4 linked regions of the Homo sapiens genome follow. The protein of the gene in region 3 interacts with the protein of the main gene of each other region in a biochemical or structural test. Each region holds a gene or a part of one and is shown on either strand. Other genes may lie near its edges.

Region 1 (4,376 bases), on a different chromosome or scaffold from region 3:
CTCCTGACCTCGTGATCTGTCTGCCTGGGCCTCCCAAAGTGCTAGGATTACAACTGTAAGCCACCGCACCCAGCTGCCTCTATCTTCTTAAGGAGTAGAAATCAGACAAGATCTGAGGGGCCAGGGATCTGTCTTGACAATCCAGATGTTTTCACTCCCACCCCGGAATTCTTCCCATTATCCAAGCTTTCTTCTCAGCCCTGAAAAATGAACTTTGGCTGGCTACTTGTAGAGCTCTTTAGATAAAGGAATTTTTAAAGTAATATCTTATGATTGTTTTTGAAACAGGTTCTTCAAGCCCCTGTAATCTCTCTCAGCATGGGGGAGTAGATGTCTTTTTCTAATCTATTTCTCTTTATATCCTGCACATTACTTCAAAAGGTTTGCTTTTTTATTCTATTATGCATCCAAAACCCAACAAATCCTAGGGCCATCTTTTGCAATTTACTTCAAAGAATAGATTTGAAAAGTCACACACCTCTCTCTTTGCCCAAAAGAAGCTGAGAACAATGAAGCTTTTGGTCTCAGGTGAATCTTTTATTATTTCCAACTGAGACAAACATTTTTCCAAAGACAGTAGCACAGTCATTGTCATAAGCATGTTAATATGTCTATTTTGCAGAAAAGAATATGCTACAAGTCATGCAATTCACATTTTCAATAGCATTCTGACAGAAATTAAAGACAATTCCAATTGTGTCAAACATTTAATGAATAGTAAGTTCTACTTTCTGCCCTTGGGTAGATAAATGGTGTCTTTCAGTGAAGTGGTGAAAAACAGATCATGTGATGGCTGCTTCTTAACAGTGCCCACCGCTCCAATGACAGTCAGCCCCTTTGGCTGAATTTCTCAGCTATCTTCTGTAGTTCCAAATCCATTGCAGCCAAGTTTTCGAGTTCTTTTTTCTGGAAAATACAGAAAAGTGGAGGCATGAGGTCCCGAACCAATTTCTTTTGCTGTAGTTTGATGGAGCATGAGTGCAAAGGGGAATTTTAGGCATGTTAGAAGCTGCATTAGTCAACCTACCTCAGTAACTCTCAAAGTGTGGTCCCCTGACCAGTGGCATCAGCCAGGAACTTGTCAGAAATGCAGATATTGGGGTCTCACTTGGGACCTACTAAATGAGGAACTCTGGGGGCTAGGAATCCCTCATGATCCTAATGTACATTCAACTTTGAGAAGCACCAACCTACATAATCAATATTAGGAAAAAAAACATTGTTTGGGTAGGTTCAGCTCCAGTAGTGTTACCTCTCCCAGATACAAATTTCTGATGGCAGTAGGGCATGAAATAATAAAGATAGCAAACTAAATAGGCAAGCAAGTAAACTTCTCTATCACCTATTCTCCCTGCCTCAGGGAGAGAGTGATGAACAATAAGAGGACCAAGGGGAAGATACCAGAACAGCAGTTGTTAACGTTGGCTGAACGCTGCAATCATCTGGAAGCTTTAAAATATTCTGATGATCAGGCAGCACCCTAGGAACTAAGTAGACAGAATCTCTAACACAGTAATTTTTCACGCTCTCCAGGTGACCCCAGTGTGCAGACAAGGTTGAGAAGCAATGCAACCGAGTGAGGTGGACAAGGATGTGGACGATGGCTAGAGGTAGGTGGAAACCGACCCCCAAGGTGGCCTCCACTCCATTACTAGAGCACCATTTTCATAGTGATTAATTCCCACCAATTTCTCCCCGTGAATATCGGATAGTCTTGAACATAATGTGCTAACATTGACCAGAGTAAGTACTTTTAAACAGAAGCCCTAGACCATACCTCGTCCTCTGTCAGGACTGTCTGGTCAGCCCTGTCCTTTTCATTTTCTGCCTCCTGGTGGGTGCTCACCGGCTCCTCAGAATCATAGAAGTCTGGAAACTCAGCTGACTTCTTCCTGTAGTGAAGGAGCTGGTCCAGTTGGGCCACCCTGTCATATTGCCTTTTCAGGTCCAGCTTGGGGACCCTGGCGAGGTTTCTCTTCTCATACCCCCAGTTCACATCCTCAGAGAAGGGCTTTTTCTCCCACCAGTCATAGTTGTATTCTGGGAAGAAATTCTTCTCGTTCAAGGTCAGCTCATTTTCCTCCTCACCCTCGAGAAAATTGTCATTCATGTTGTCTCTTCTTTCAAAATGGCTGCTCTTCCACTGGAGAGGGTCGTAGTATGGGTTGAACAGTTCCCCTAATCTCTTCCTCTTTTCAGCTGTGTGATGGGAGCTATATTGTTTATCTTGAAACCTAGCTTCCTCCCTGTTTTCTTTAGTGTCCTGCAGGTCTCCCTGCTGCTGCCACTTCCCTGGGGCTCCTTCCTCACCGTAGTTGAGATAATTTCTGTCCAGCTCTTTCCACGCACCTTGTGGATGCCTCCTTGCCTTGTCCATCTGGTTTTCTTGGACACGGTGGTGTCCTTCACCCAAGAACCTTTTCTCTTCTCTGGTGTCAGACATGAAATAGGCACGTGGCTCCCCTCCCCTGCCTCTGTGATGGCGTCCCTTTCCCGGCTCAAGGCCCCTCTCTTCCTCACTTTCTTCACCATATCCATGTGCCATCTTATCAAGCTCTAAGCTGGGGTAGTTTCTCTTGTCCTCCTCATCCCAACTCTCCTCACTCTGAGGTCTTGGAGCCCTGTATTCTTCACTTCCTCTGCCCCTATAGCGCTCCCACTCCAGGTCCTCAGGGGCCTGGACGCCTGGATAACCCTTTATTTCTTCTCCATATTCAGGTTCTTCCTCTGAAGCCCTGTAGTGGGTTGAATGGTGGTCCCTCTTTTCCCCTAAACTGGCCATGCTGACGTTTGACTCCTCAGATTCCTCCTGGGGGTGTCCCTTTTCCTCAGAGGGAAGACTCCCTCCTTGAGAGGACCTGTCGGGCCTGCTCCTCCCGTGGTGGTGTCTGGGCCTCGTGCGTCGTTTGTCCACCTCAGAGGTGGCATCTTCCTCACCTTCCTCAGATTCTTCCTGGCTTCGGGGTTGGCCTTTAGACTCCTGGGGGTGATTCTCCTGGCTCCCTGTCTCCTCTCCACTCTCCTGGCTACTCTTCTCTCGGCTATGTGTCTTCTCCTGAGAATGCCCGGCAGCATGTGTTTCCGATCTGGCCACTAACTCCTCTTTTTTTATAGCTGAAGCCTGCTTTCTTTCATTGAGAAAAGCGTTTTGTGTCTCTCCTGGCTCTTCAAGGTGTTTCTCTTCACTGCTATCTTCCCCTCGCTCCCCTTTTTGATAGTTCTCTCCCTCCTCCTCCTCCTCATCCTCTCTCTGGCTCTTCTCAGAATGGCGTGTCTTCACTTCTTCAGAGACTTGGCTGTCGGAGGGATAGAGGCTCCACTGGGGCTCATCCGCTCGCTCTCGGCTGTGCCCGCCTCCCTCTGCCCATTTCTCTGTGTCTGCCTTTGTTGGGCCTTGGATGTCCTCCTCCCCTGGGGCTCCTGCCTCTCCCCTGCTGGAGGACTCGTGGGCTTCCGAGGCATCAGCTGGGTCTCTTAACAATCTTACTTCAAACTTTGTGTTTTCATTTTCAGTTGTCTCTTTGTCTTTGACGTCTTTTCTACCTATAATGAAAATGAAGAGTAGGTATAATTTCAGAATTGCTTGTGGTTCCACAAGCACCAGCCTCAGTAATCACTACAAATCCTGATGACACTGAAAATTGCTTGGATAATTATTTAAGTTAATGAAGAATATACTCAGATTCCTTTTGAAAGTAAATGCTATGAAAGCTCCTTGACTGTGTTTAAATCTGGTAATAAACTGTCTATATTTTTATGTCTTCATAATGCCCAGCCAGCTTCTCTCATTGGTACTACCAATGATCAAACTGAAATCGAGATATAGATTTATGAAATATTAGAATTTAGAGGCAGGAAACATCTTAGAATTCATCTAATCCAGTCCAACCTCTTCTTTTTGCAGACATTGAGACTCAGCATGGTATAATCCAAGACCATTCTTTCCATATTTTCTTCAAGTAGGAGTTAAAAAGTTAGCACTATGTGAATGGCTCTAACAATAATCCAGCTAGATAGTTAACTAGCCAAAATAAGAAATATCAAGATTCAAAGGAGGATTTAAACATTTGAAATTATTAGTTTATATCAGACTTTTATTATCCAATCAACTGTAGGCTCAACCTAGCAGTATGTGATATATAACTTAGTAGCTGGTGATAAGGGTGTACATTTCTTGCCTGAGAAAACTGCACATCAGTGGAAAGGGCCATTTCTTTCTTCACTCAGGTTCCATCCACCCAACATGTTCTCAGATGTTGGGGACAGACTTCAGCACAGTGAGTTATCTTTGTGTTTCCAGAGTCAGAGTACATGGTATAACTGATATTTTAATTGAATGCTGTTCTCGTCCATCTTTTCCAAATATCAATAGCTCC
Region 2 (7,191 bases), on a different chromosome or scaffold from region 3:
TGGGATTTGACCTCACATCTGACACCAGGTCACTTGCTCTTTCTGCAACTGTGTGCTTAACAGAAAACCAGAGGCCCCGATGTAATCCTGGGTCTGCCTTCATCTTTCTGTGTGGCCTTAGGTGAGCCGTGTTGTTTTGCCAAGACTCAGCGGATTCATCTGTAAAATGGGGACATATCTGATTAGTTATGTGGTTATCTGTTTAGCATCTGCCTTTCTTGTTAGACTGGAATCTCCCAGAGGGCCTGGCTGTGTCTCTGCCTTTCACCGCTGTGTTCTCAGCACATAGCATTTGCAATAAGTTGTCCCATTTGCTCTTCTCAACATGGCTGTGAGATAGGTATGTACCACTGAGCCCATTTTACAGATGAGAAAACTGAGGTTCAGAGAAGTGAAATGATTTGCCCAAGGTAAAGGTTAGTGGAGCTGAGACTCATGCCGCTGTCTTCTCAAGCAGGTGTGATTTTGGGCATCTCTACTTCAAGACAGGTGTTAGGAGAGGAGTTGCAGGCATCTTAAGTCATGAGAAATGATAATAGGTGGGGCTGGGAATAAATTGAGCTCCAAGCAGAGCAAAGATGTTATTTTTATTTGCAAAGCTATCTATCCTTCCAGCTATAGCTGATGGAATCCTCCAGGCCCCATTAGTCCCCACCCCTCATACATCCCCTAAGCTGTGTCCTCTGCCCTGCCCAGGACTGGACTCGGGCCATATCCGTGGTGCCGTCAACATGCCTTTCATGGACTTCCTGACTGAGGATGGCTTCGAGAAGGGCCCAGAAGAGCTCCGTGCTCTGTTCCAGACCAAGAAGGTGGATCTCTCGCAGCCTCTCATTGCCACGTGCCGCAAGGGAGTCACCGCCTGCCACGTGGCCTTGGCTGCCTACCTCTGCGGCAAGCCTGATGTGGCCGTGTACGATGGCTCCTGGTCCGAGTGGTTTCGCCGGGCCCCCCCAGAGAGCCGTGTGTCCCAGGGAAAGTCTGAGAAGGCCTGAGCCGTGACCTCTTCTGCTTACTGTAACTGCGGCCGGTTTAGTGACCCCATGACTTACAGCCGGTTCTTACCTCTTAGGTGAAGGAGATGACATGTTTTTAGAATTGCTGTGCAAGGCTCACCCTCTCTCTGTCAACACTGGAATAAACTTTGCCTTTTCTGAGTAGTGTGTTTGCCTGCCTCTCTCTGGGCTCCATCCTTGCCCCCAAACTTCCATCTCTTTCAAACTCCGGAGACTCCACCAAGGACAGAGACCACCATAGCCCCTCTGGCTGGGGAAGCCATACCGAGGACACCACTTTCACCCAGTTTTGGCAGAAACAGCCTCCTGCTGTCCCATGTCAGGTGGACTCTGTCCCAGAGCATGCTGGGTCCTACCAGGAAGACAGGTGGGAAGGGAACCAGAAAGCCAGAGAGCTGAAGCCCCAGCTGCTGTAGCCCCAGCCTCCTGGGTAGGGGCGGAGGGACAGCTGGCTTTCCCAATATGTCCATAGAGGTGTCACACAGACCCAGGGCCTCTCAGAAGAGGCCATGCTCAGGAGCAGGTGAAAGGAAGGTGGCCTCTGTCTCGAGCACCTTTTCTGGCTCAGAGTAAGACCCCCTGGGGAGCAGTGGAGGGAGGGGCTGGAGAAAGAGCTTTGGCCCTGGGAGAAGGTCCAGGCTCTGGCAGGTGAATCAGGAAGCCACAGTAGAAGAAAGCAACCTGATAGCTTGGCCCCATGTGGCTGGATTTCAAGTTTCCCAGAAACAGCCTCTCTTAGACCTCCTTTGGGGTTGCAAGAAGAATTCCGGGCCCCACCTACTGGGGACTACCGGCTCCCCACTATCCAGCCTTCCCAGTGAAGACAGGATCCTGGAGGGCCGGAGACCAAGTCTGTCCTTGGCTTGGCATTGGGGCAAATAGGTGCTCAGGAGATGCTGAGGAGGTTGGTTTTGGGGCTGGCAGGTTGGGTGATGGGGCTGAATGCTGAGGCCGGTGGGACCTGTAGTGGTGGGACTGGTAGTCTGGAGGGTTGACCCCTCTCACTTCCATGCCACTAACAAAACAGTCCTCTTCCCAGCTCACATGTGGCTCAGATCCTACTGTGGGAAGAAGAAGCAAATATACACAGTATGTCAGATGGCAATAAGGTGCAATGGTAGAAAAGGTTGGAAAATAGGAGTAGGGAGTGTGGGGTGGGCTGGGATGCTTTTTAAGAAAAGGTGGTCTGGGAAGGTGAGCAGAGTCTTGAAGGAGGTGAAGAGGCAAGCCATGTAGGCATGTGGGGGAAGGAAGTTGCAGGAGAGGAGAGGGAACAGCCCGTGCAAAGGCCCCGAGGAGGGACTGTGCTTGGTGTGCCCAAAAAACAGCAGAGCCTGGCATGGCAGGGACCCAGGGAGCACTTGGGAAAGTGAGAGGAGCAGAGGTCAGAGAAAAATGGTGGACAGGTTGGGTAGGGCCTTGCAGATAAATGGGAGGATGTCAGCTTTTACTGTGGTTGAGCTGGAAGGTTTTGTTTAGAGGGGTGACATATGATCTAATATAGGTCTTAACAGGATTGCTGGGCTGTTGAGTGAGAAGACTGTCAGAGGATATGGTGGACTCCAGGGTGGTCCCCATATTATCTGCCCCCTCGTGTTCATGCCCCGTGTGACCCTCTCCCTTTCACTGCGGGTGGGACCCGTGACTTGCTTTTAACCAACAGCCTACGGCAAAGGTGATGGATGCCACTTCTGTGACTATGGTACACAACATTGTAATGCCCCATCTTGCAAGGGGACTCCCTCTTTGCTGGCTTTGATGAAGTCAGTGTCATGTTGGTGTTGGGGGGCCCACATAGCAAGGAACTGAGGATGGCCTCTGGCTGACAGCCAGAGAGAGCCTGAGACCCTCAGTCTAACAGACTGCAAGGAACTGAATCCTCCCACAGCCACATGAGCTTGGAAGCATATTCTTCCCTAGTGGAACCTCAGATGAGACTGCAGCCCTGGCCAATACTTGGATTGTAGCCTGCTAAGACCCCAATGCAGAGAACTCAGCTAAGCCATGAGTAGACACCCGACCCAAAGAAACTGTGAGATAACAGTTGTATGTTAAGCTTCGAAGTTTATGGCAAGATTGTCGTGCAGCAATAGATAATACTTAGGCAAGAGATGAGGGTGGCTTGGACCAGGGAGTAGGGGGAGTTGTGGAGGTGGACGAAGGCATCCAAATCTAGTGTACTTCGAAGGACTTGCTGATGGGTTGCTTGCGGAAGTAGCTTAGAGTTTTGTGATGTCTCTCTCTGTGCAAGGCAATGTGCTACATTTTGCAAAAAATTGTTTTATTCGCCCATCACCCTTATCCTTAGTGTTGGGTGATATCTGTTTCACATGTGAAGGAAGTTCAGCTAAAGGACTTGGCCAGTCTCTTATCTAATAAGTGACAGGCCCAGATTCTGGGGACTCCAAGTTTAACCACAGCACTCTCTGTTTCCTGGGGAAATCCTGAAAGGCTGGGCTTGCAGGAGGCGTTCACTATACCCACTCTTTGTCCAGGCTGAGCAACAGCCAGACAGGAATGGGCCAGTGCTGGCACCAATGACTTCTGCCTCCTTCTTCTCTGCAGAAAAGAAGTCACTTAATTTTGTTGATCTCCTTCTGTAGCCCTTGTTGTTTAGGAATAGGAGAGAGGACCCTTCCTTTAGTTTTACTCCCAGGTCCCTGATCCCTGGGTGTCCAAATCAGACAGCTCCAGATGCATCTTTCTCCTTCCCCATTGACCTCGACCTACATTTATGCTGTTATACACATCCATGCCTTTAATATTCTCATCCCTTCAAAACTGTTAAGTTCCTAGGCATCCTTCAAGATCCAACTCAAATGGCTCTTTCATAAGTCCTTCCTCCTTTTTCCTACACAGAGCTAGTTCTTCTCCCTACTTAGTGCTTTGAGCTCCCAAGAACATCTTTTGCACTTGGTAGCATCTGAGCCCCCTGTGCCTGGCACACCTGGCATGTAGTGGGGGCTCAACTGACATTCTAGAGTGGATGAGAGAGTGAACAATAATTGAAGCCCCTCCTGCCTTTTCCTGGCCTCAATCCTGGCTTTCTCCTGGCCTCTTTTCCCTACGGGTGGGCCTATCAGCCCTCTGAGGTAACAGAGCCCTGTGTATAGTGATCACCATGGCAACTCCAATGAACATCTTGGGGAGGGCCACTTCCCAGCAACCATCCATTGGTCTTCACCAGTAGTTCTGCAGTGGGGATCTGCACTTCTGGGCTTCAGCACACATCAGTGTGGTTCACGTGTTTCCTGCTGTTATGAAAGAGATTGGAGAGGTGAGGCAGAGACTTATGAAGGGCCAGGGTTCTTCCAGGACATGGGGTTTCATCTTCCTTCTCCCCATTCAGAGTTGCTTGTGAGTGAAGACTGCCTAGACTGGACTTACCTTCCCGCCCTCTTTGACCAAAGTCTCTTGGGATCTCTCTCTCTGGGTCAGAAACTGGAAGTGAGTCCACACTTCCATTGTAGCCCGTCCAGACTGCTGTGGACTGGCAGTGCACTGGGACGTACAGAGCTGCCGTGGGCACGTCAGGTTGGTGGCTGGGGATAGGAGGAGAAAGAAAACTTGGAGCTAACTTGAACTTCACCTAGCTTGAAGATGTGCAATTTAATTTTAGCCCCACCTGGTGAAGTCCTGTGTCTTTTCGGAGCCTCATTTTCTCCATCTGTGAAAGAAGATAAATTAGTAGTGTCTCCGAACACCTTACTGGGTATTTGTGAAGACCAGACTAATTTACCAGATGTGAGAATGCTTGACATGGACTTGTGTTAGTTATCTCTTGCTGCACAACAAATCACCCCAAAACTTAGTGGGCTTAAGACAACATTTACTATCTCACAGTTTCTGTGAGTTGGGAATACCGGTGGAGTGTTGGTGATTTTTCTGTCCCAGGGTCTCTCACAGGCTGCAATCAAGGTGTTGCTTGGGTCTCTAGTCTCATCTCAAAGCTCGACCAGAGAAGGAACCCATTCACATGGCAGGATCCAGCTACTCTGGAGCTGTTGGCAAGAGGCCACTCTGAGTTCCTTGCCCTGTGGACCTCTCCATAGGGCATCTCACAACAGGGAAACTGGCTTCTGTCAGAGAAGATGAGCTGAGGAGAGCTGCAGAGAGTGTGTGAAAAAGACAGAAGTTGTAGTCTCTTATAAGTTCATCATGGATGCAACATCCCTCATTTTTGCCACATTCCATTCATCACTATGTCCAGTCCACACCAAAGGGGAGAGAATTATACCAAGAAACAGGGATCATTGGGAGCCATGTCAACTGCCTGCCACTCTCTGCCCTCTGGCCCCCAATAATGTACATCCCTTCCACATGCAAAATATAGTCATCCCCTCCTAAGATCTTTAAAATTCTCATCCTATTAAAGCATCAGTTTAAAAGCTAGAATCTGGTCATATAAATCAGCTCCAGGTGTGGCTGAGGCTCCTCCAGTGTCGTTCCTTAAGTACAGCTTCTCAGATTCAATTCTTCCCCATCATAGATCTGTGAAACTAAGTAATTTGCCCTGAACACACCTAACATACAGTGATGTGATAGGCATAGGATAAGAACTAGTGACATTCCTATTCAAAATTGAGGAAAATGGAGACATGGAGTCAATGTTCCATAGCGGTTTTGAAATCCAGCCACACAAATGTTGGACATTCCTTGATTAGGTTTCAAGGCCTGGGGATAATTCTCCATGGCTCTCAGCTCTGCCTTCTGGACTCTTGCATCCACTCTCTGACTTGTCTTTTTTATTTTTATTTTTTGTTCAATGGTATCTTTTCATTTTGTACTGTCTCTATCCCTTTTACCCGAAGTTGCCAACATTTTGCTGATGTTATTTTCTCAACAGTAAAACTTACAGGGGTTCACTCCATTGAACAAAAGTCACACCCCTTTTTAACTGAGGCTCCTGTTGAGGAGCCTTAAGCTTCCTAGAGGTCCTATGGTTCTGTTAAGAGGATATATCAGGCATCTCTTTAATCTCTTTAAAGCACCCTTTGTTTGACAGAGTAATACCCTCATCCTTTGATCTTTCTGAAGTTTTAACAACAGGTCGCACAGTCACACTCCTGGGCACACTTTCCAGACAGCCTTCTGAAGCTATTTCTTAATTTTAGCATCTTTTGGGATCTGGAAAGGATGAGACTTCAGAACCATTAAGTACTGGCATCTTTTTGTTTAACAGTCCCTTCTTCAATTCATCACCTTCCTCTCACATTTCACTACAAGCAGCAAGAAGAAAGTAAGAGGCAACTACCATCTTTTCTTTGGAACTCTTTAGCTAAATCATTCAGTTCATTAGTCACATAACTGCAGATGACAGTGTCACTGTTTCTGCCACTACATAACAAGGGTCTTTCTTCCACTATTTCTAGTAATATATTCCTCACTTCCATTTGGGCCCTCACTCACTGCATCTTCCAACTCCAGATTTCTGCTTAAAAAAAAAAAAAAACTGTTTAAGGTGATTTAGGCTTTTTCTATCATGCTTCTCAAAATCCTTATAGACTCTGACCACCGCTTGGTTCCAAGTTCAGTCCCAAATTTTTAAGTATTTGTTATAGCAACACCCCACTGTTAGTACCAAAATATGTATTAGCTATGTATTGCTGCGTAACAAATGACCATAAAGCTTAGAAGTTTGACACTGTATGTTTAAAACAGTACAAATTTATGATCTCAGAACTTATAGGAGTCAGGATGCTCACTTGGCTGGGTCCTCTGGCCCAGGGTATCCCACAGGCTGTAATGAAAGTGTCATCCAGGCTGTGTTCTCATATCAAGGCTCAACTGGGGAAGGATCCACTTTCAAGCTCATTCAGGTGTCAGGATTCATTCAGTTCTTCAAAGACTGTTGGACTCAGGGCTTCTATTCTTTATGAGCTTTTGGCCAGAAGTCACCCTCAGTTTCTTGCTCCATGGGCTGCTCCACAGGGCAGCTCAAAACACGGCATTTGCTGTCATCAGAATGAGCAAACCAAGGAGAACCAGGGAAAGAGAGCAAACAAAACCGAAGTCACAGGCCGGGCACGGTGGCTCACACCTGTAATCCCAGCACTTTGGGAGGCTGAGGCGGGTGGATCACTTGAGGCCAGGAGTTAGAGATCAGCCTGGCCAACATGGTGAAACCCTGTCTCTACTAAAAATACAAAAATTAGCCAGATGTGGTGGTGCACAC
Region 3 (7,032 bases):
GGTTTTCTCTGGGGAATAGATGACGGGCTATTTTCTGTTTCCTCTTTAGACTAGTCTGTCTTTTTCAACGTTTCTACAAAGAGCAGAAATCCATAAACAACCCACCAGAACGTGTCAATCCATGTAACTTTCCAAGACCCATAGGGGATCCCCAAGTCCAAGTGCATCCTCATGGGAATGGCTTGGGAAATGCCAGACACTTTCCAGCCTGGGTCTCACAGTGGACCTGTCTGCCTCTGCAGGACCAGAAAATCTACATCTACACCCTCAAGGGCATGTGCCCCTTAAACACACCCCAACAGGCCTTGGATACTCCAGCTGTCGTCACCTGCTTCTTGGCCGTGCCTGTTATTAAAAAGGTGAGGTCGGGGCAAAGGCAGGTATGCAGGTCTCTGATGCACTTCCACGCCTAGGAGGCGTCTCCTAGCTATGTCAGGGTGGCGCCTGCAGAGCCACACCTAGGACCACCTGGCCTAGGACGTAGACTTAGAGACGGTGGGAGGAAAGATATCAGACCTGGTCCGTCATTAGTGCCTTCCGGTTTGCAAAAACCTAAGTCAAGTCCCCAGCCAGACTGCAGGCCGAATGAAAAACCCCCTTTCACATGCAAATGCCCTGACTCAGGTGGAAGGACTGTTGGTACAAATGGCACGGTGAGCAGTCATGCGTGTGCCCTTCCCCTATCCGGAGCCTCTTCCCCACCTGCCCAGGCCAGAGCCACCTCACAGCCACTTGATCACCAGGTCCTGGAGGTCCTGATCTCCCTCCCTCCATCTCTGCCTCCCGCCAAGTACTCGCCGTCTTACACCAGACGCAGTTTCTCTTTGTGCAGCATAGCCCTGCAGACTCAGCTCTTTAACCTCCTAGCCCTGGCCTTTCTAAATGAGACCCCAAGGGGCACTCTCCCCATTAAAGGCCCAGCCAGCTGTGCTGCACCTTGGGATTAGCCCCAGCCTCTATGAGGCTGGCCTCCAGTCCCTGCTGGGCCCGGCACCCTCCCCACAAAGCACCCCACTCTGTGCTGGGCCCTTGACATCCCAGCCTCCTCCAGGAACAGCCCCTCCACGCACCTCTTCCCAGACGGCCTCCGATTCAGTTCTCAAGACCCGGGGCCTTGTCCCCTCCTTTGAGAAGCTGCCCCTCAGTGGGGGGCAGCTCCCTGGCTTTTCCGGGCTCCTCCGCCCACAGGATTCAGGCACGGCTCAGCCAGCTCTGGTTTCATCCACCCTGAGGGGCCTGTCTGTGCATAGGCGCCCTCACTAAATGCACAAGAAGCCTTTACTGGTGTTGCTTTGTTAAAATGTGACTGTCATCATCCAATTCCAGTTTGCCCATCTACAAAACAGGTATAAGAAGAGACAGAAGGCCTAGCATACCCAAAGGTCTAGGCCGGTGTGCTTGGTAAATGAGTATTATTATTACTTCTGGATGGTCGCAAAATACATGAACTCTTCTCTTCACCCTTCTTCAGTTTCATTTAAAAAAAAAAAAAACAGGTATGAAATGAACCTTAGAGTCATTTATGACCATGGCCCCACAGCGAGGCTACGCAGCTTGGGACCAGGCCCGTACCAGAGCGCAGGAGAACACGACACAAAGTGTTATTGAGGCCACCGCTGGCGAGAGCCCCCAGCCAGGGCACCACCTCCTGCACGACCAGAGGGAATAAAGCCTGCTCTGTGCAGGGCCTCCTGGGCAGGGTGTCTGCCCCCTCCAAGGCCGCCAGCGCGAAGCCTGCATTCTTGCACGCGCACCCACGTTCACACCCAGCCGGGACGTGGCACTCACCGCCCTGGCCGGGGCCTGAGCCAGGACTGCAGATAGAGACCTGGAGCCTGTTTGCCTTGGCTGCCTTCTTTCCCTAAAGTCCTGGGGATGGATTTCGATACGCTTTCTTAGAGCATGTTGTCCTGGACAGTGAGCTACGGGTCTCCACTCCATTGCCCTGCACAGCCAGCCTCCTGAGCTCCCCCAGCTCCCCACAAGGAGGCTTTCTGCCCTGCCCCCTCACTGGCATGAGGCCCAGCTCCCTGCTCTGCCCTGACTCCAGCTTTGTTCTGCAGACCTCTTCCCACCCCCACCACAGCCGACGCGGTGTCTAGGCTGCGGAGCTGCACTCTGTTCCTGGCTCTGCCCTGGGAGGTGCCCCGGGGCGGTCTGGGGTGGGCCCAGCATTCAGCAAGGTCCCTGCAACTTTGGCCTCTGCCCGGTGACCTCTGGCGGGTGTAGAAGAGCTCATGCTTCATTGAGGGGGTGGGGGGCACCCTGAGGACCCTGTCAACGTCAGCTGAACCACAGGCATCTCGATAGATGTAAGCTGGGATGAGGGCTCAGCAGGCTGAGACAGGCCTCCAGAAGAGGGTTGAGTAGGAAGCGATTTCTTCCAGAATTAGTTCAGCAAACACATGTCATCCACTTGGAGCAGGAGCCAGGTGGAGTCACAGGGCCACCAAGATGAAGGAGACTGAGCCCTTCCCTGTGCCAGGCTAGTGCCACGGGGATGCTGGTGGGCTGGGAGCCCATCCTTATGGAACACTCTGCCTGGTGGGGGGGGTGGCAGGCAGGGGGCAGTGCACAGATGCTTGCCATGCCCCCACTGCTGTCATGTTAAGCAGCACCGAGAAAAGGGCGGGGGCACCAGGTCCTGCCTCTGAAGGAGGCCTTGGTGGCCTCAAGGAGAAGGCAGCTCCCTGCTGCTCGCCCTGCAAGAAGCTGGCAGAAGCAGAGGCAGCCCATGTGGTCCAGGTGACACGCAGCCTTACTTGGTGCCACAGGCCCTGCCTCTGGGTGGCACATTCCTTTCTTTGCTGCAGGGATGGTAGATATGGCTCTGCGGAGTCAGAGCTGCACTTCTTTAGGAGTAGCCCCGGCCTTTCTAAGAGATTTGCTGCCCTGAGGCGCACTGGTGGAAAGTGACTGCCCGCCTGGTGTGGGTGCAGATGAGTCCAGTGCCTACTCTGTGTCTCTCTTGGAATGTGTGAAATGGAAGGATGTGACACATCCCTGTCTCCTTCCTTCAGAATTCCTACCTGGTCTTAGCGGGCCTCGCCGATGGGCTTGTGGCTGTGTTTCCCGTGGTGCGGGGCACCCCAAAGGACAGCTGCTCCTACCTGTGCTCACACACAGCCAACAGGTCCAAGTTCAGCATCGCGGATGAAGACGCACGGCAGAACCCCTACCCAGTGAAGGCCATGGAGGTGGTCAACAGCGGCTCTGAGGTCTGGTACAGCAATGGGCCGGGCCTCCTTGTCATCGACTGTGCCTCCCTGGAGATCTGCAGGCGGCTGGAGCCCTACATGGCCCCCTCCATGGTTACGTCAGTCGTGTGCAGCTCTGAGGGCAGAGGGGAGGAGGTCGTCTGGTGCCTGGATGACAAGGCCAACTCCTTGGTGATGTACCACTCCACCACCTACCAGCTGTGTGCCCGGTACTTCTGCGGGGTCCCCAGCCCCCTCAGGGACATGTTTCCCGTGCGGCCCTTGGACACGGAACCCCCGGCAGCCAGCCACACGGCCAACCCAAAGGTGCCTGAGGGGGACTCCATCGCGGACGTGAGCATCATGTACAGTGAGGAGCTGGGCACGCAGATCCTGATCCACCAGGAATCACTCACTGACTACTGCTCCATGTCCTCCTACTCCTCATCCCCACCCCGCCAGGCTGCCAGGTCCCCCTCAAGCCTCCCCAGCTCCCCAGCAAGTTCTTCCAGTGTGCCTTTCTCCACCGACTGCGAGGACTCAGACATGCTACATACGCCCGGTGCTGCCTCCGACAGGTCTGAGCATGACCTGACCCCCATGGACGGGGAGACCTTCAGCCAGCACCTGCAGGCCGTGAAGATCCTCGCCGTCAGAGACCTCATTTGGGTCCCCAGGTACGTTTCCCGAGGTGAGGGCACCATCCAGGGCACGCCCACTGCTCCTGCTCTGGGGACAGAGCAAGGGGAAGCCCCCTGGCTTCCTTACAGGTCATGTGGGGAGGCAGGTGCTGTTCTTCCAAGAGGGTTGGTTTCCTCCATTGGGAATGGAAGCGATCGCTTTAGCAAATCTAAGAGTGGCCGCACAAAAGCTTATTGCCTGCCAGAGAGCTTAAGGTGCCACACAAGGAAAGCCACAGTCAACTGTGACTCAGTTTCCACTGAGAAAATTCTCCTCTGCTTTGAAGTCTGTCCCCTCCCCATAACTTAATCCCTTAGCAGAAACTGCATGTCTGTTGCCTCCCTCCCGCACCTTTCTGCACACCGGCTTCACTCCCCGGAGAGCACGGCTACCGACAAATCGCTTCCCCTTCTGGGTTTTGGTTGCTTAGGCGCGGTGGAGATGTTATCGTCATTGGCCTGGAGAAGGATTCTGGCGCCCAGCGGGGCCGAGTCATTGCCGTCTTAAAAGCCCGAGAGCTGACTCCGCATGGGTAAGACTGAGTGGCAGCTCCTTTAGGACCCAGGCAGCAGCATGAGCACAGAAGGCCCTGCAGCCAGGTCCTGCACAGTGGCTTTGCTGCCCTTCCATTCTCCCAAATAGCATAGCCACTAACGTGGCTGTAAGGCAAAGTGGAAACAAGATGGGGCCCCTCAGACAGCTCCTAGGGGCTCCGCACTGGCCATGGCTGCCTGTTTCTGGAGTACCCAGTGCACCTGTAGATCAAGTACCCTACCTAGTACCCTACCTAACGAATGTCTCCAGGGCCAGAGTTCAGCTGCAATCGACATGCAGATGCATCCAGGTCATTGATTCACTGTTCTTCCTGCCAAGCAGGAAACCCTACCCGAGGTGTCCACCAGCCCACACAGCACCCTATGGGGACAGATGACACAGGCACACCTTGTCATCTCCAAGCCTGGGGTCTCAGCTCCTGCCCTTCCTGGGCTGAGACATAGCTCAGTACCTGTCTGTGGGTGGGGACCCCCAGGATTATGCCAGTCTCCTCTGTGAAGGTATGCTGGGCAGGGTGGCCTGTCCGGGACATGGTCTACATGGTTGCAGTGATGTGAGGCTGGCGCCAGCTGCAGCTCCCCACAGTGTTTACACCCCGCACTTTGACTACCGAGCCCCACACGGTAAATCTCCCCTACGAAAAGTCCTCAGTTCAAATGTGTGTGTGTGTGTGTGTGTGTGTGTGTGTGTGTGTGTGTGTACTTTGGAGCTCTTCCATTTCACACTAGGCCTGTTTCCCTGCAGCATGAGTTATCCCCCATCCCTGGGCAAGTGGGTTTTTATTTCATCTGGAGCATAAGAGGGTGGAGAAACACCAGTCAGCTTGCTTCTCCCAAAGCAGGACAATGACAAGGACATCCTTGGCAGTCGCACTCCCTTGCCTGCCAGCTTTGAACTTTTGCAGTGAGTCCTGGGCCAGTGACCCTTACTCTGTAAGTGGTTCTGGAAGCAAGATCTGGATCTGCTCCTGAGCTCTGGCAGAGCCTGTGGGTAGAAGCCTTGAACTGATGGAGTTCCCAGCTTGCAGGTCGGGCTTCTGGAGGAAATGGGTGTGCAGCACCCAGGTTAGGACCTTGGCATACCTGCCATTAATGTCCTAACGTTTAGCTGTTGTTTTTCTCCTATTCATCCCTAAAGCCAGATTTTACCTCTTTCTCGCTAGAGGGAGGCTCCTCCCCTAAGGGGAGGTCCTGGCAAGGCCACGCGGAGTGAGAGGTCCCTGGACATCCCAGTTTGCAGGAGCACCTCAGTGCCACGCAGGCCGCACACACGGGACACAGAGGGAGGAAAGGCAATTAGTATGTGCTTGGGGTGGGGCACCACCAGGGCAGGGAGGCCACACTGTGGCCCAAAAGGAAACCTGTAGCACACACCCACCGATCCTGCAAAACTGTCCACAGTTTCAAAAAATGTATATAGTGATGACTTTGGGGCAGTAGGTTTTCCATTTAATATATGATCCTGTATTTCCTAAGCCTGTAGAAACAGAATGAGAGAAGAATCTTACTGAGCTTAGTGGCAAGGGAGTTGAGTTAAACTCGGTCATGAGCCATTCACAAGCAGAAATTTGGGTCAGTGGTGTTTTCTGGACGCTTTGGGAGCTGAGTCAAGGATGCATGATCTGATTGCCTCTGTGGCCTTCCAGGGAGTCTGACTCTTACAGACAAAGCCCATGGACGCGAACTCATGCCCACAGCCCGTCTTTGGACTTTATAAAGCCTAAGCCCACAGGCTGGCCACTGGGGAGAAGTGGTGCATCTCAGCACACCCCAGAGAGGGCTGGCAAGCAGACACACTCCCCTGCCCTTAGCCAGCTCCGCCTTCCTCAGAAGGCACAGGGGGAGGGTCCCAACCCCACCCGAGTGGGAACCCCTGTGAGTTTCCTCAGACCCCCTTCTCTCTGCAGGGTGCTGGTGGATGCTGCCGTGGTGGCAAAGGACACTGTTGTGTGCACCTTTGAAAATGAAAACACAGAGTGGTGCCTGGCCGTCTGGAGGGGCTGGGGCGCCAGGGAGTTCGACATTTTCTACCAGTCCTACGAGGAGCTGGGCCGGCTGGAGGCTTGCACTCGCAAGAGAAGGTAATTCCTGTGGAATGACTGTCACACATCAGAGCTGGCTGGCCCGGGGCTGCAGCCTGACCCCTCTGCCATCGGCCTCTAGTTCTCCAAGGACCTAGAAGACAGATGGAGTTCTCCCCTGAACTCCTTGCTGCTAAGAAGTGCTGAGAAGTTACTCGCCTGGCGGTGGCTCCAGGGTTCTCTGGTTCTCTGGAGCAGAGTTCTCTGAATACCCCATCCCCCAACTGCTGATTTTACAGCCCCAGGGAAGACAGTGGTATCAGGCTGGGAGCGGCCTCCTCTGGCCTCCCCCATCAGTTTGCAGGAGCAGGGGTGCAGGATCCTGTTCTGAGCTGGGTCAAACAAAGCAGGGCCGGGCCTTCCTGCCATCCCCAGGTCTCAGATGGAATTACACTAGAGGCCCTCCGCTGGGAAGCACTTGAGGTAGGGCAGGAGGGGGGCTGTGACCCCTGCCCTTTCCCCGCCAGAGACCTCAGGCTCTCAGCACATTCCACAGGCTCCTGAGTCCCCGAGGCCTGG
Region 4 (7,032 bases), on a different chromosome or scaffold from region 3:
TCTTTCCTCCACTTTTCAAAGGCCTGCAGCCACTCTGTGACTACAAGAGCCAGTCCTCCGACCTTTTCACCCAGTGCCAATTTCCAAAATTCAACAGCTAAAAACTGTAAAACCGGGGGTCATACGGTGTGCAGAGTCCACAAAGCCTTGCAGGTGAGGTGACCACGCCCACGTCACCTGGTCAGGTGCCATCGTCGTGAGCCTCTGGTGGGCCAGGTGGGACACAGCACACCCCAGGGGGAGGGGATAGAAACGCTCATTGACCAAAAAGGAGCAGCTGTGACCTCCACAGCTGTGTCTGTCATGCTTGCTTCATCTAATTTCTAGTTAGTAGCTATTAATATAGCAAATAATAAATGCAGTAATAACAGTATAAAGTCAGAGGAATGTATACTGCCTTGGCCCCAGCGTACGAGGAAGCGTATAAAACACCATATCACAGATTGTCTGTCAGTAATCTGCTGTTCAGCCAAGAGAGTTCAAAGGGAGCAGTTTCTGCATGTAGGGAAGTTGGAAGACACAAACCCCACCTCCCCTGGGAGCTTGTAACAAAGCAGACAGGGATGCAAAAATAAATGATGTCAGCCTGCAGCCAAACTCCAGCATCCCACACCGCAGCTGACCCACTGCTCATCGCGAGGGCCTGCCAGGAGCTGGCCTCCCGCACTACTTGTGAGTAAAGTGAATATCAAATACCAATCTTAGAGTACAACTGTACCAGCAGTAAGTATATCTAGGACTGTAACTGACAAAAATAAACTAATTCTGAAAAGAAGATAGTAAGTATTAAGGTTTTTGTTTACTGTCTATATAATTAATAGAAACCAGCTATTTTTTCTCCATTAAAACATGCATCACGTTTAAAGCACTATGGAATCCTCCAACCTCAGCTCTAGTCTAACAAACTGCAGTGTTCAGAGAAGATAAAATGCCCGTGATTGGTAGAGTCTGCAGTCCAGTTGCAAGCACCTGAAATCTAGAGAGAGAAAGACCTATAACCTGTATGAGACTTCCCCTTCCAAAGCTGTATTGTCTACATTAAAAAAAACAAAAACAGTAACAACAACAAACACACAAATGGTCAGAAATGTCATCCTTAAACCCTTTGTTTTTCAGCAGTTTGCCCTCAGAGTTCTGGCATAACACATAAAGTTGTCAGGCAACTTTAGTCCTCCTCCAATAGTGCAAATCAGACACGACAGTTCTCTTCAAGTATACACACGCACACACATGGACCGAACCAAACACGCCGTGGAAGCTGAGCCACACACACCCCGGTCTCAAGAAGCAAAGGAAAAAGCACAAAGCGTCTGAGTCACCAATTCATCATGGCTTGTGACTGAGAAAGCGCTGTGGAGTCCTGGCCCCGTCGGGGCAGCAGACCTGCATCAGAGGTTTCTTTGGTAACTGAGGCAGGAAGTAAGGATGCTACATTAGACAGATGTTCCACGCGTAGTTCCTGCTATCATGTTTGAGGGCCCCCTTGTACGGATACCAAGCAAGTACAAAAACAGAACACAAATCCCAACAACATGGTTTTTGCAAATAAACCATCCCTTCCCTTCCCCCCACCCCACCCCCATGATTTTTTTTTTTTTAAGTACTGACTGTTCAAAGCTCAGGCAAACCATGCAGATCCACGTGTTGTTGGAGGAGGCGCTCCCTTCAGGAGACCACAGAGGGGGAGTGACTGTGGCTGACCATGTGGGCAGAGGGGCTGGCGGGCTGGCCCCTGCGAGAGGCGGACTCAGGGCTGCTGGATGCTCCGTCCTTGGCCGCTTTGATCTGGAGCCACGTGTCACCCAGAGCTTTGGCAAAGTGGTCGTCCACGGAGCCCGTGATGGACACGGAGTTGGGTGCCGGCTCGGGCTCCTTGTAATTCTTGCCCAGGCTCCTGCGGAAATGCTCCTCCACCACGGGGTCACAGGTGGTGGCAGCTGCAGGCAAGCAGGAAGGCAGGCAGTCAGACACAGGTGGCTGCAGACAGACAGGCACGGTTGCAGCACCCTCCCTCAGGCAGCCCAGAGCCGGACTGGCTGCCACGGTCAGCGTGGGCTCTGCAGACAGAACCCACCTCCCCCGGCTAAGTCAGGCACTTGGGCAGGTCACTTTTCTGTAAAATGGTGATGTACCAACTGCACTGGGCCAGAGTCCGAGTTCAGAAAGAGAATGTGGCATTAAATTTAAATAACAGTAGCCGCTGCCCTCCCTGCAACTAGGGCATGAGACCCTGGAACTGAGCGAGGCGGTGTGTTTCTCATGCCCTTCCCACCCAAGTCATGCGCAACGCTAGGCGCACACTGGACGTGCTCAAGAAATACTTTTTCAACCTCAGCAATAGATGGGCTCAGGGGCGAGAGGTTTCAGCCAACAGCATGACAGAGAAGGGCTCTGCTGCCACTAGCACAGCTGTGACAGGTGAGGAGGCCCGGGACACTCACCGCTCGGTGGCCTCCGGTAGCTGGCAGGCCCGGGCGCGGCACAGCCGCTGTGCGCGATGGGGCAGTGCGAGAGGTTGCAGTTGCGGGCGCCAGCCGAGGCACAGGTGATCACGGAGGGCCGGTTCTGCGGGGAGGAGGGGTGTCAGTATGTGGAGACCAGCTTCAGTACCGGGCACCACCCCTGGGGCCCTCCCCAGCACCCTTCAGGCTCTGTCCTGGTGCCCTTCCTGACCCAGTCTGCCACCTCCCACTTCAATACTGGAGTCCTGTTGCTAAACACAGCCAATCCACAGAGTGAGCGCAGCTCCAAGGGTGTGTGTAGTGGCCCTTGGTCGTGGCTGTTTGGATCAGTGAGGGTACAAAGGACAAAAGCTCAACTGTTGAGTTGGTCTGTCCCCATCTCTCAAATCTGTTAAGACAAACACCGGGCATCCTGTGGAGGACAGAGGGTTGCAGGAGGGACCTCGATTCTCCCGTTAACGTCCCCAGAGCCCTTCCCATCATGTCCACTGAGCCGCGGGTGTGCCTGGAGCCATCCAGGACACTTCAATACACGGCAATTAACTGGAAGCATTTTGCTTGAGCCAAAGCCAGCTCGAGTTGGCCTCAGTGATGACCTACAAATCGGGACAGAGAGGAAATGGAGGAAATATGCCTAAGTGTGGAACGGCACACATCCCACCCCAGCCCGATCTGCCCTGTGCACAGCCTCACTCTCTCCTTCACCCCCACCCCCACGCTGTCTGCCTGGCAAACTCCCCTTGTTCCTTCAAGCCCTGTTCAGATCTCTCTCTGAAGCCTTTCACTGGCCACCGCCCCACCACCACCGCTTTTCACTCCTGCTCCCCTAACCCACCAAGATTCAGCAAGTGCATCGGTCTGTCCAGGTGCTCCCGTAAGACCATGCACACCAGGCAGTATGTCTGGCCCCCCAGCTTTGGTGTGGAACCTGGGACAGAAAATATTTGTGAACTAAACAGAACTTCCTCAGGTTCCCCCAGGAAAAGTATCTTCCAATACCCCCGAGGACAAGGTGGTGGAGTATGTGGGCTAAGTTCCAGGACAGCCAGCAAGGAGCTGGTTGAAATCACCCCACAGGGACCAATGGTGACAGCAGTGTCAGCCAGAGGGACGCTGGGCCTTATCCTCCCCAGCCAGCCCTTTCCATTAAAGTTAGAGCAGTAGCTGGTATAAAGACACAAAAGGCTTGCATGCCAGACCTTCTCATGATAGACGACAGTGATTGGGAATGGTGAAAGTGGATTCTAGGATGAAAATGTGGATCCACAAGGATGAACTGGGATTGAACACAAGGACCTGTGCTTGGGTCTAACAAGAAGCGACACATGCCAGGGTAGGGGGGGATGTGGCTTAGCAACAGCAGACCAACCAAGAATTCAGGGTTTCTTAGTGGCCCGACACTTAGCAGCGGGACAGAGCTGCCCAGGGTTCGTACGGCCTCCATGGTGTGCACAGGTGGCAGCGCAGAGAGAACCCGGGCAGGTGGAGCTGGGCTGAATGTCCACGTTCTGCCTGTGGACAGGGCCTCGGGTGAGAGACTTCACAATGCTGAGCAGACAGGCTCGGAAAGGGGGTTGGGGACCGACAGATGAGGCCTGGAGCAGATCTCACACTGGCTGACCACAGGGGTCAAGCAGCAGCAAGAGAGCAGAATACCGAGACCTGGACACGCACAGAGCCAGGAGGAAGGAGGGCCCTGCCCCTGTCCAGCTCTCAGAGATGGCCAGGCCCTTCCTGAGCCTGGCTGCACCCATGACCTTGGGCTCTAGGAGACCCCCCCCCAGGGTCCTCCCAATAAAACTCCCTTTTGTGCTCAGCCGGCTTGTTCTTTGCAGCGAGCGTGTCCTGACCCACGCAAATGTGGGGAACTGGGGAGACATTTCGAGCACAGGGAGGGGGAATCAAGGAAGATGAAGAAATGAGCTCACTGTCCAGCCTTTATGTCAGTCTATCCAAGGCAGGAAAGGCCACTTCAGAAGAGACTCTCTAACAAGGGACCAGCAGGGCAGGCTGGCTGACTGGTATCAGACCACCTTCAGGGCATCTCCTGACCTGAGCTGGGGCGAATTGCCTTAACCGGTCACCTGCAGATGTGAAGATGTTCAGTGTCTGGGCATCCTCTCCTCCTCCCCACAACCCAGGCTGCAGGGTGGCCCGTGAGCCCTCGTGGGACTGGCTCCACCACCCCTCCTCCCCAGCTGGAGTCAGGCATCTTGCCCCTGCCTCTGTGGTTGAGTGCAGGCTGGGACTCGTCCACCTAGAACGGGCCCCAGGCCTCCAGATGGTGAGCGTTTATGGGATCCCGAGGCTCCCCTCCCCCACACCCTTATTTTCCAGATGGGGAAAATGAAGGCCAGAAACACCCTGTTGGAAGTTACGCTGCGGATTTGTGGCAGGGCCAGTATGAGCCCTGTCACTAACCCCTTCACCCGCTGTCCCACCCACCTGTGACTGTCCTCAGACAGAGGCTGCCCCGGGGGAGAGGGCTCCCACCACCTCTCCTATCTGAAAGCAACCCCCAAGGCTGGCTGCGCCAAACTTTTTTTTTTTTTTTTTTTTTTTTTAAAGACAAAGTCTCACTCTGTCGTCCAGGCTGGAGTGCAGTGACGCGATCTTGGCTCATTGCAAGCTCCGCCTTCCGGGTTCAAGCGATTCTCCTGTCAGCCTCCCGAGTAGCTGGGATTACAGGCACCCACCACCACGCCTGGCTAATTTTTGTACTTTTAGTAAAAACAGGGTTTCACCATGTTGGCCAGGCTGGTCTCGAAATCCTGGCCTCAAGTGATCCGCCGCCTCAACCCCCCAAAGGGCTGGGATTACAGGTGTGAGCCACTGTGCCCAGCCCTCAATGTGCGAAGCTTAACCCCATCTTGCCTCTCCTCACTGGCTGCTGCCCAAGGCCACCCTCTTGGTGTTTGTCTGTCCTGAGCTGCTATCACAAACATGAAATGGGGGGACACTTTCTGTAGCCTCCCCATACATGCCCCTCTGGGAACTTTCCTGTCCCAGTTCCCAGAGATCTGAGACACATTTTCTGCCACACAGAGGAAGGCTTCCACCGTGCCCACCCCACAGGGCTGCAGCATGCGTCCTGCCTGCCTGTGGACACAGAGCTTTGCTGTCACCCCAGGAAGCCCCCTCCCCACTGCCATTTCCCTGGCTCTGAGCTGCAGGATGACACCCAACAGACTTCCAGGAAGAGACCTCGGAGCTGCTGGAGCACAGGCAACGTGGCTGCTTGGTGTCCTCAGCAGGGCGCCCGAGCCCAGCTCGGATTGGTGTGCATGGCCTCAGCCCCGCCACGCTGCCGCAGGAAGGAGCCCCACGAATGGTTACGACATGAATGACATGTGCTGACAGCAGCCACGGCAAGGAGGGCAGGACTGACCAACCCCAGCCGAAAATGACAGCTCCGGTCAGGGCCACTGTGCCCTTCCCAGGAAAATGGGCAGCTTGGGGTACCCCGTGGCCCCTGGCTTTGTCCTCAGTCCAGGCCAGGATCCCATAAAGATATAGCTGGGGGGTCGAGGTTCTTCCTCCTAGGAAAGCTGCTCAGGAGCCCCAAGGCACAAGGAGGGGCCCTTGCCACGTGTGCCGTGGGCAGCCAGGCCCATTCCAGGCTGGGGAGAGGGAGACAGGGTAAAGAGAGTCAGGCCACTCTGTTCAGCAGTTCAGTTTTTGCAAAGCAACTGTGACCGAAAACCAACTGCAAGATTCTCAAGAGCCCTGAAGAGTCAAGGAAATAAATCATCCAAGAACACACTAAGCCCGCCAAGGGCCCACCCTGACCATGTGGGCAGAGATAGCTTGTAAGGCTCACAGTTATGTCCCCCAGGTCATCAAGGGCCAGAGGCTGGATGTGGGTGCTCCGAGATTACAGCTGAATCCTCCCCTCCATACCCGTGTCCTTCAGGGACTCCCCAACAGCAGTGGCAATGGCCAGAGAGCCAGGTTCTGCCTGCACGGTTCAGGCCATGGCTCATGGCAGCATTACAATGCCTGTTGAGCTTCCCAAAGCAGAAAGGTCCACTGCCCACCCCGGGGAGCAGTGAGCGGGTCCCTGTGGGTCGCACTGCGCACACGCCTCTGTTCCAGCCCCTGCTGCTGCCCAACAGCACAATCCTCTCTTCTCATGTCCATTTCCCCAATTAGACTGGGAGCTCCCTGTGGCCGTGACAGTGTCCACACACACGTCTCTGGCTGCCCACAGCTCTGCTCTGCAGAGGGCTGGGTAAATGGTGAGCGCTCGTAAAACGTTGAAATGAACAGCAGTGATAACTTGGCCTCGGGTTCCATCAGACACATCAGCGATCTCTCCTCCAGACTAAAACTGAGCGTGCTGAGAACAAAAACTGCATCTTGCTTGACTGGCTTCTGGTACCCCCTGGCACACAGCAGGGGTCTGTGCCATTTTGTTAAATGGATGAATCAAACAAACAGGATTACCATGTCAGGCTCTGAGGCAAGATGGGCAACTGTTCTCAGCTTCACCAGGATTCCCAAGCACCAGAACCACCTCTCCCAACTCCCAGGGCCTACCCCACCCACAGTTTCAACAGACCCCATCAGA

What was found.
Region 1: the proteins of LRRK1 (region 3) and CHGB form a complex in vitro, tested with the Homo sapiens proteins (2 studies listed by BioGRID and IntAct, with this or other methods).
Region 2: the proteins of LRRK1 (region 3) and CIMIP4 form a complex in vitro, tested with the Homo sapiens proteins (2 studies listed by BioGRID and IntAct, with this or other methods).
Region 4: the proteins of LRRK1 (region 3) and VGLL4 form a complex in vitro, tested with the Homo sapiens proteins (2 studies listed by BioGRID and IntAct, with this or other methods).

What each region holds. Positions count from the first base shown.
Region 1 is NC_000020.11:5,921,502-5,925,877, reverse strand, and holds the end of CHGB (secretogranin-1 precursor), read right to left. Parts: intron 3,544-4,376; coding exon 1,778-3,543; intron 907-1,777; coding exon 829-906; 3' UTR 525-828; downstream 1-524. UniProt on the Homo sapiens protein: Secretogranin-1 is a neuroendocrine secretory granule protein, which may be the precursor for other biologically active peptides.
Region 2 is NC_000022.11:37,004,831-37,012,021, reverse strand, and holds the start of CIMIP4 (ciliary microtubule inner protein 4), read left to right. Parts: upstream 1-4,170; 5' UTR 4,171-4,293; intron 4,294-4,365; exon of another isoform or gene 4,366-4,550; intron 4,551-7,191. Other genes in the region: TST (thiosulfate sulfurtransferase), read left to right, coding at 697-995.
Region 3 is NC_000015.10:101,062,332-101,069,363, forward strand, and holds part of LRRK1 (leucine-rich repeat serine/threonine-protein kinase 1), read left to right. Parts: intron 1-242; coding exon 243-359; intron 360-1,070; exon of another isoform or gene 1,071-3,020; coding exon 3,021-3,874; intron 3,875-4,308; coding exon 4,309-4,410; intron 4,411-6,339; coding exon 6,340-6,517; 3' UTR 6,518-7,032.
Region 4 is NC_000003.12:11,556,891-11,563,922, forward strand, and holds part of VGLL4 (transcription cofactor vestigial-like protein 4), read right to left. Parts: intron 2,566-7,032; coding exon 2,442-2,565; intron 1,978-2,441; coding exon of another isoform or gene 1,964-1,977; exon of another isoform or gene 1,938-1,963; coding exon 1,666-1,937; 3' UTR 1-1,665. UniProt on the Homo sapiens protein: May act as a specific coactivator for the mammalian TEFs.